2 separate regions of the Homo sapiens genome follow, and region 2 is linked to region 1. The links come from fine-mapping of genetic effects on gene expression. A gene starts in region 1. The other region holds a variant in brackets. All regions are shown on one strand. Distances are between the middles of the regions.

What was found. PIP is the estimated chance that this variant, and not a neighbour inherited with it, causes the effect.
Region 2: its variant is the best candidate, but not a certain one, in a credible set for the expression of LINC01409 in subcutaneous fat (FUSION, PIP 0.64).

The regions. Positions count from the first base shown.
Region 1 is chr1:776,263-780,643 of GRCh38, reverse strand. LINC01409 (long intergenic non-protein coding RNA 1409) reads right to left here and starts at 1,846. Exons shown (of 6, transcript NR_187359.1): 1 at 1,552-1,846. LOC100288069 (a long non-coding RNA gene) reads left to right here and starts at 2,010. Exons shown (of 20, transcript NR_168328.1): 1 at 2,010-2,360. RefSeq lists an enhancer at 1,724-2,293.
Region 2 is chr1:963,408-967,788 of GRCh38, reverse strand. It overlaps KLHL17 (kelch like family member 17), which reads right to left. Exons shown (of 12, transcript NM_198317.3): 8 at 4,285-4,381; 9 at 3,781-3,869; 10 at 3,609-3,682; 11 at 3,259-3,440; 12 at 2,070-2,826. The coding sequence ends at 2,598. PLEKHN1 (pleckstrin homology domain containing N1) reads right to left here and starts at 1,307. Exons shown (of 16, transcript NM_032129.3): 1 at 1,175-1,307; 2 at 986-1,085. The coding sequence starts at 1,257. RefSeq lists silencers at 666-825, 1,096-1,415. The variant G/A (reference allele first, on the strand shown) is at 2,772.

The DNA.
Region 1 (4,381 bases):
GTAAGACTCCATCTCAGGAAAAAAAAATTTTAAATTAAAAAGTTCTAGTATCTAAAATGAGCAAAATCGCCAGGCGCGGTGGGTCACACTTGTAATCCCAGCACTTTGGGATGCAGAAGTGGGTGGACCATCCGAAGTCAGAGGTTGAGACCAGCCTGCAGTGAGCCGAGATTGCACCACTGCACTCCAGCCTGGGAGACAGAGTGAGACTCCATTTCAAAAAAAGAATTAGCCAAGCGTGGTAGCATGCACCTGTAGTCCTAGCTACCGGGGAGGCTGACGGGGAAGGATTCCTTGAGCCCGAAGGTCAAGGCTGCAGTGAGCCTTGTTTGCACCACCTCACTCCAACCTGGGCAAGACCCCATCTCAAAAAAGAAAAAAAACCCACAAAAACAAAAAACAAAACAGAACAGAACAGCATCACTTCCTTATCATTAGTTTGAAGGAAGTGAATTGCCTGTAAAAGTTTCCATTTTCAAAAAAAGTGTTAAAATATAGTGTAAAGCCAGGCACGATGGCTCATTCCTGTAATCTCAGCACTTTGGGAGGCTGAAATGGATTGCCCCTGGAGGTCGAGGCTGCAGCTGAGCGATTCTCCCGCCTAAGCCCGGCAAGTTGCGGAGACTACAAGCGCGTGCCACCATGTCCAGCTAATTTTTTGTATTTTTGTAGAGAAAGGGTTCCACCATGTTGCCCAAACTAGTCTGGAATTCCTGAGCTCAAGTGATCCACCCACTTCCGCCTCCGCCTCCCAAAATGCTGGGATTAAAGGCGTGAGCCACCGGGCCTGGCCCAATTACTTTCTTCAGTCTGAGCATGAGTGCTGGAAGAAAAGCTCTCACTTGCATATAATTTTTTAGAGACAGAGTCTCCCTCTGTTACACAGGCTGGAGTGCAATGGCGCAATCTCAGCGCATTGTAACATCAACCTCCAGTGCTCGATCGCTTATATAATCTCAGCTCACTGTAATCTCAACCTCCCGGGCTCGATCGCATATATATACACACATATATTTGTTTGTTTAGACGGAGTCTTGGTCTGTTGCCCAGGCTGGAGTGCAGTGGCGCGATCTCCGCTCACTGCAACCTCCGCATCCCGGGTTCAAACAATTCTCTGCCTCAGCCTCCCGAGTAGCTGGGATTACAGGCACCTGCCACCACGCCCGACTAATTTTTGTGTTTTTAGTAGAGACGGGGTTTCAGTGAAACCATGCTGGCCAGGCTGGTCTTGAACTCCTGTCCTCGTGATCCACCCGCCTCGACCTCCCAAAGTGCTGGGATTACAGGTGTGGGCCACCTCGCCCAGCCGACTGCTTATATTTTTAAAAAGATGTTTTCTTCATTTCCTAGCCCCTTCTACCCCGCTACAAGTTTCAAAGACTTAATGCTATTACAAAGGACCGTCAGAGGTCAAGCTCAGGGGTGCAACTCCCTCATGCCGGGCAGCCTCAGGGGGCCGACCCTACCCAGGATGAGCGGCGCCAGGTAGCCGGGGACGCTCCCGGGGATCCCCGGGCCCTGGCTGGGGGAGGCGTTGTGGAGCGCACGTACCCAGGCTCAGATGAGGCGAGTGGGCGGCCGGGGCTGCAGCTGGCGCTGGCCATTGAGGAGCTTCTGCGCGACAGTGCGATCGGTTGCACCTTCTGCGACAGGTGCCGGCCGGTTGGCGCGCAGCGCCTGCTAGCGCAGAGTCTGGCCCTTGCTGCGCCCGGCGCCGAAGACCGGGAAGTCGTAAAGCTCCTCCTCGTGGCTTATGTGCGGCGGCGGCCGGGCAGAAGCCTAGCGACACAGAACTGCCAGCTCAGCAGCCGGTTACATCCCGCCCGGCCACCAGTAGGCAGCGTCCGCTCATGCGCGCTCCTGGAAGAACCAGCAGCCCCCACCGCGAGTTCTGATTGGCTCTGCGTGAGTGGTAGTCCCCTGTGACGTCACAAGGGTGCGCCTTCCGTGACGTCACAAGGGCGGGTCTTCGCCGACACCATAGAGGTGGGCCGTTGGCGACGTTAGAGGCGCGGGTGTTCGGCTACATCACTGGGGCGCCATGGTGCCTGGAGCTGGGCAGTTTTCTCATCAGAGTGGGGACTGGTAAGAGTGACCTCCCCGCCAGGTTCTGTGTGTTGCCGGCTGAAGAAGGGTAGCTGAAAAATTCAGACCCAGCACAGTGTTTATGTTGGTCAAAAATAGAAAACTATGTCTGGCGCGGCCGAGGCGGGAGGACCCTTCAGGCCAAGAGCAGCCTAGCAACATGGCGCAACCCCATCTCTGTAGTCCTACCTCAGCCCCCCAGCTACTTGAACCCAAAGGTTCAAGGCTCCAGTGAGCTATGATCCCACCACAGCATTCCAGCCTGCGAGATTGAGGTAAACCCTGTCTAAAAAAATTTAAAAAACTATCCAGGTGTGCAACAGGGAGGGACTGCTAAATAAAACATGAGGCTGGCTGGGCCCTACTGTAATCCCAGCACTTTGGGAGGCCGAGGCGGGAGGATGGATGGCTTGGGCTCAGGAGTTCGAGACCAGCCTGGGCAACATGACGAAACCCCGTCTCTACAAAAGATACAAAAATTAGCCGGGCGCGGTGGACACCTGGCCTAATTTTTGTATTTTTTTCTAGAGATGGGGTCGGGGGGTGCCTCGCTATGTTGCCCGGGCCAGTTTCGAACTCCTGAGTTGAAGCAATCTTCTCACCTTGGCCATCAGAGTTGTCGGGATTACAGGCGTGAGGGACAGCGACCCACCTGGGTTAGGCTACTTAATAACATAAAGTGCTCCGCCAGGCTCAGTGGCTGACACCTGTAATCCCAACACTTTGGGAGGCCGAGGCGGGTGGATCACCTGAGGTCAGGAGTTGGAGACCAGCCTGGCCATGGTGAAACCCAGTCTCTACAAAAAATACAAAAATTAGCTGGCCGTGGTGGCGCATGCCTGTAGTCCCAGCTACCTGGGAGGCTGATAAAGGAGAATTACTTGAACCCGGGAGGCAGAGGTTGCACTGGGCCAAGATCACACCACTGCACCCCAGCCTGGGCGACACAGCGAGACTCCAAAGTTTGACACCAGCCTGGGCAATGTAGTGACACCCTGTCTCTACAAAACAAACAAACAAAAACCCAGGCATAACTGTGTCCACCTGTGGCCCTAGCTAGTTAGGAGACTGAGGCAGGAGGATCACTTGAGGCCAGGAGCTCAAGGCTGCAGTGAGCTATGATAATCCCACTGCTTCCCATCCTGAGCAATAGAATGAAAGCATGTCTCTAGATAGATAGCTAGCTAGATAATTGATACGTAGTTTTGTATCAAATTTTTTCCCTAGATTTGAGCATGTTTTTCTAAAGTAGCATTCAACACATCAGCATTTTACAGTGTTATTATTTGTTAATATGATTATGTTTTTCTGAAATACAGTGTCCTTTACAAAAGCAGTTTTGTCTTTCAAAGCGCATAGATAAGGCCCTCAAGTAAATTTGTCTGATGTTGCCGACCTTGGTACCATTTTGTCCACTTGATTGAAAAGCCAGTCAATAATTTCAGGTCACTGTTGGCCTTAGAAGAAGAGCCCAAAGGCAACAAGCAAAGGCGCTGGTGTCCAGTCGCCTTCTAGAAGCATTTTCACTTTCCCTTAAGGTTTCCCTTGATGAACATAGAAGTACTGTATGTAGAATTGACCCAGTGCTGCCCTGGCAACTTTGTATATTAGGCCAAATTTACATTTCTTAGCTTTATGAGAGGCACCCTGGTAGGCTAGTGGAGTTACACACAAAGTCTGATCTCAGCTGCACTGTCCAGAAATGCAACACGGTCCAATCAAATAACATTCTCTGAGCCTGTTTCTTTAGCTGTGAAAGAAGAATAACATACCCATCTAAAAAGGCAGCTTATTGTATTTGATTGGTCTTTTATTTTCTATGAAACTGTGTTTAACACAGTAATTATTTTCATTTGTGTACTACATTTGTGTTGTGTTTTTGGTTTTAGTTTTGTTTTTGAAATGGAGTCTTTTTTTTAGTGGTTTTTTGTTTTGTTTTGTTTTGTTTTGTTTTTGAGATGGAGTCTTTCTATTGTCACCCAGGCTAGAGTGCAGTGGCGTGATCTCCGCTCACTGCAACCTCCACCTCCCAGGTTCAAGTGGTTCTCCTGCCTCAGCCTCCTGAGAAGCTGGGATTACAGGTGCCCACCACCATGCCCAGCTAATTTTTAAAATATATTTTTAGTAGAGATGGGGTTACAACATGTTGCCCAGGCTGGTCTCAAACTACTGACGTCAAGTGATCCACCCGCTTTGGCTTCCCAAAGTGCTGGGATTATAGGCATGAGCCACCGCGCCTGGCTTGTTTTAAAATAAGGGTTTCTTGGCTAGGCATGGTGGCTCACACCTGTAATCC
Region 2 (4,381 bases), 190 kb before region 1:
ACCCCACCCCTAACCCAGCCCGGCTCCCTCTCCCTGCCCACTCCTCTGAGGCAGCGTGGTTTCCGAAACCAGTACTTGTCTGCAGGGAGCCCTGAAACTCTGGAGGTCAGGAGAGGGTATGGCACGAGCTTCCTGCCTGGCGGGGGCATGTTGGCAAAGGGGTCTGCACGGCCATGCCAGCTGCTGGACCCAGGAGTGCAGGGCAGGCGTCCTCTCCCGCAGATGCTCCTAGGGCCTGCACATAGCGGAGCCCACCCATCCAGGCTGCCTGACGGGGGTGCAGTGGGGGTTCCTGTCTGCCCTGAAGCCCAGGTTCCTGGTCCTGTTCCCTCATCCCAGCACCAGACACATCTGAAAGGGGCTGGGATCTACCCTGTGAAGACCCTTAGTCCCACAGGGGCTGGGGGGGGGGTGGGCATGGGGGTGGTCTTCTGCTCCTTTGACGGAGAGGTGGCCTAGTGTGTGCTTGGGAGACACCTCCTTGCTGCATGGCCTTGGCAAGCTGGGAGGAGGCCGGCGCGTGCACAGAGGGATTGCTGTGGACCAGGCGGCCATACCCAGCGGCAACTTCCTGCGGGACACCCAGGGAGAAAGGCCGGTGTAGGTGACCGGCTGGCTCGCTGCTCATCTGAGGCCCCTTACTCTCAAGTGACACTACCTGCCGGCACGACCCCAAGCCCCACTGCAGCGACAGAGACACGTGCGCTGGTCCCCTGCGGGAGGAGGTCCCGGGAGGCCCCGCCCGCGGCCCGCCCCGCCCAGCTCTCTCCCGACTGACTCAGTCCTGCGTCGCGGTTTCGCTCTCCGCTCAGACTTTCGGCCGGATGAGCTCCCCAGGGCGGGGCAGTCAGCGTCGGCTCCTCACCTACCGGGGTCTGAACGCCCCGGGGGCGAGGGGAAGACCCTGAGCTGCACGGACACACGGCACACACGCGCGGGCAGAGCCACGCTCCCAGACCACAGCCACCGTGCACGCCGCGCTCACCGTGCCCGGGATGTAGTGGAAGAGCTTGTTGGCGGCGGCGTCCCCGCTTCGAGCAGCCTCGGGGCCCGGCAGGCCGGCCGACATCCGCGCGCTGTCCTCTCTGGGGACAAGGCAAGGGGTCTCGTGGCTTGGCCCCGGAGCGGGTGGGGGAGCCCTGCGCCCAGGTGGCCGCACCCACGCCCCGCTCACCTGTTTCCCTTCAGCGAGGGCTTTCTGGAGAAGGAGGCCCGGAGCCTCCTGGGGGCCTGAGGGACACAGTGGCTGTTCCCCATGGCCAGAGTCGTACAGGTCGGCAAGTCTGGGTCCCTGTCCACAGCCTCCTGCCCCCGCCTCCCGCGGGCAGGCGGGGCTCCGGGACGTCCCGCCCGGCACCAGGGCCTGGGCGAGGGTGGAGCCTTTCTGGAAGAGGCCTGGCCCCTACCTGAGCCGTGCAGGTCTCTGCCCTGGGCCCTCCACTCGAGAGGCCAGCCTTGGGGCAAGCACCCCTCTGGCCCAGACGAGGCCTCCAGTGTGCAGAGGTACCCCACCTGCTTGTGCTCCGGCTTGGTGAACCCGGGGCGACCTTCCAGGCCCCCCGGGACAACGTGCCCACACATCCTGTTTCCATCTAAACTCTGGCCGGCCCGAGTCACCGGTGACTGCAGGGAGGGCTGAGGCAGGAGTTCCAGCACAGGAGACGGCGGCCAAAGCCACCGCAGCCTCCCCTCCTGCCTGGGCCCCCTCGCCACAGACCCGAGTCAGGGTCCCCAAGGCTTAAGGGGACTCAGGGAGGCCACATGCCCCCTAGACGGCCAAGACAGTCAGCGCACTCGGGGGCAAGGCTGTCCTCCCCAGCCCTAACCCCAGAGCCCACGATGTGGCGGGGACCTCGGCCTCAGTACCCAGCCCAGGCAAACGCCACCCACACTGGGACGCTGGTCCACAGGAACTGCACGGCCCCCACCCTCCCTGGACGCACAGCTCTGCCTTGCAGCTCCCAGATGCCTGCGCATCTCAGGGCACCCCCCCACACCCCTCACCCTGGACCCCAGACAGGACCCAAAGTTGCGCAGCTGCCCCACATGCCAGAGAGAGATGCTCAGCCTGAGGAACCCCAGAAATGTGTTTATTAAGTTGGACTCGTATTGCTGTGTGGGGTCCCAGTGCACGCGTGTGCACCCACTACAAGATCCAGGAAAGATGGCACACGGCAGACGACGACAGGAAGGACAACTGCTCCCCACCCTTCCCGGGACCCCGCCATGTGCAAAATTCGAGCTGGGGTCTGCAGCTGCTTGGAGAGACCCAGGGCCTCTTGCTCCACAGCCTGCAAGGTCTGAGCAGGCAACGGCCCTGGGGCGGTGAGGCCCCCGCCTGGTCACTCCCCGCGCCCCCCATGCAGGCAGTGGAGGGGAGGACACGCAGGAGGACCAGACGCTAAAGGTGTAAACGGGCAGCCGTGGCACTCCTCACCCCTCAATAAATAAGATAAATAACTAAATAAATAAACAACTAAATAAAGACATGAAGGAATGGATGCAGAGACGTGAACGGATGGCGCAGGACGTCCCTGGTGGGGGCCACGGTCCCCTTAAGGCATGTGGGAGGCTGCAGGCCTCTGGTGGTAGGTGGGTCAGAGGCTGGTGGAGGACACGGACAGCGTCGGGGAGGATGGCGGCGGGAAATTGAGCAGCTCCAGCACCGCCACACCCACACTGCTGCGCCGGGTGAACATGCAGGATGCGGCCACCCACTTGTTGGTCCTCGGGTTGTACTTCTCGATGGAGTTGAGGCTGGAGCTACCGTC[G/A]TTACCCCCCACGGCGTACAACCATCCGTCCATGGCCACCAGGTCATGCGTGCTCCTGGGGGGAAGGCGGGGTGAGCCCCTGGCTGCAGGAAGGGATGCGGGGGGAGGGGCTGCACCACAAAAAGGGGTGGTGGCGGGACATGCTCGCTGAGGTTGGGAGAACTCCCTTCTCACAGCACATCCCCACTGCGGACCCGCGCCCCCCTCCCGGCAGCACATCCCCACTGCGGACCCGCGCCCCCCTCCCGGCAGCACATCCCCACTGCGGACCCGCGCCCCCCTCCCGGCAGCACATCCCCACTGCGGACCCGCGCCCCCCTCCCGGCAGCACATCCCCACTGCGGACCCGCGCCCCCCTCCCGGCAGCACATCCCCACTGCGGACCCGCGCCCCCCTCCCCGCAGCACATCCCCACTGCGGACGCGCGGACCCCTCCCACAGCCCCACTGCGGACCCGCGCCCCCCTCCCCGCAGCCCCACTGCGGACCTGCGGATATTCATGGGCGCCACGCTTTCCCAGGCTCCAGCCTTTGGACTGTATCTCTCTACCGAGTTGAGGCAGCTGGTGCCGTCGTTGCCCCCTGCCACGTACAGGGCACCCTCCAGCACGGCCACGCCCGCTGAGCTGCGTCGGCTCAGCATGGACGCCACGGGCGACCACACGTTCACCTGGGGGCGAGGGCGTGGGCTGGACGCAGACCCGCCACTGGCATCCCTCCTCTGCCGCAGCCCCGACTCCAGGGTGGGGTGTCAGGAATGGGGGGGATGTGGGTAAACAGAGGGAGGAGGGCCCCGCGGCGCACGGGAGGGGGTGGCCAGGAGGGGTGCACTATGCACCTGGGGCTCATACTTCTCCACAGTGGCCAGGTGTGAGGAGCTGTCGTAGCCGCCCACAGCATACAGGTTCCCATCTGCCGGAAGTCAACACACCCGTGGCACTCCTGCTGGGAGTGGGGTCTCCACGGTGGGGGAAGGTGGGGATGCCCCCCAGGCAGGCCCCATCACCCACCAAGCGTGGCCACTCGCACATAGCGCCTCCGGGTGCTCATGGCAGCGACGGACGTCCACGTTCCGGTCAGGGGGTCGTAGCGTTCAGCACTGTGGGCACCAGGACCGCAGCCACAGCTCAGCAGAGACAGAAAGGCGTCCCGGCCCCAGGACCTGCCCTCCCCAGCGGAATGGCTGAAATCTTACCCTAGGAGTCAAACTCAGACCGCAAAGTCCTACCAGGCAGGGCCCGCTGGTGGGCACAGGACCCTGGCTGCCTGAACAACCCTGGGTGCACACCCACCTGGGCCCAGCCTCTGGACTGGGGGTAAGGACCCGAGAGAGGAAAGGGCACTGGGGCAGCAAAGCCAAGAGTTCAGGCCCAGTGTGGCAGTGGCCTGGGGTGAAACGGCCTCGCGGATCACCTCCTTTAACACCCCATCAGATACGACCCCTGTGATGGTGACACAAACTTGCCTCTTGCAGATGGACTGTACAAAGCCACTGGGGCCCCAACCCCAACTACCTGTTCAGGCAGGAGGCCCCGTCATAGCCGCCGGCCGAGTACAGGAGTCCATGCAAGGCGGCCACACCCAGGCAGCTTCGCCTTGTGCCCATGGACA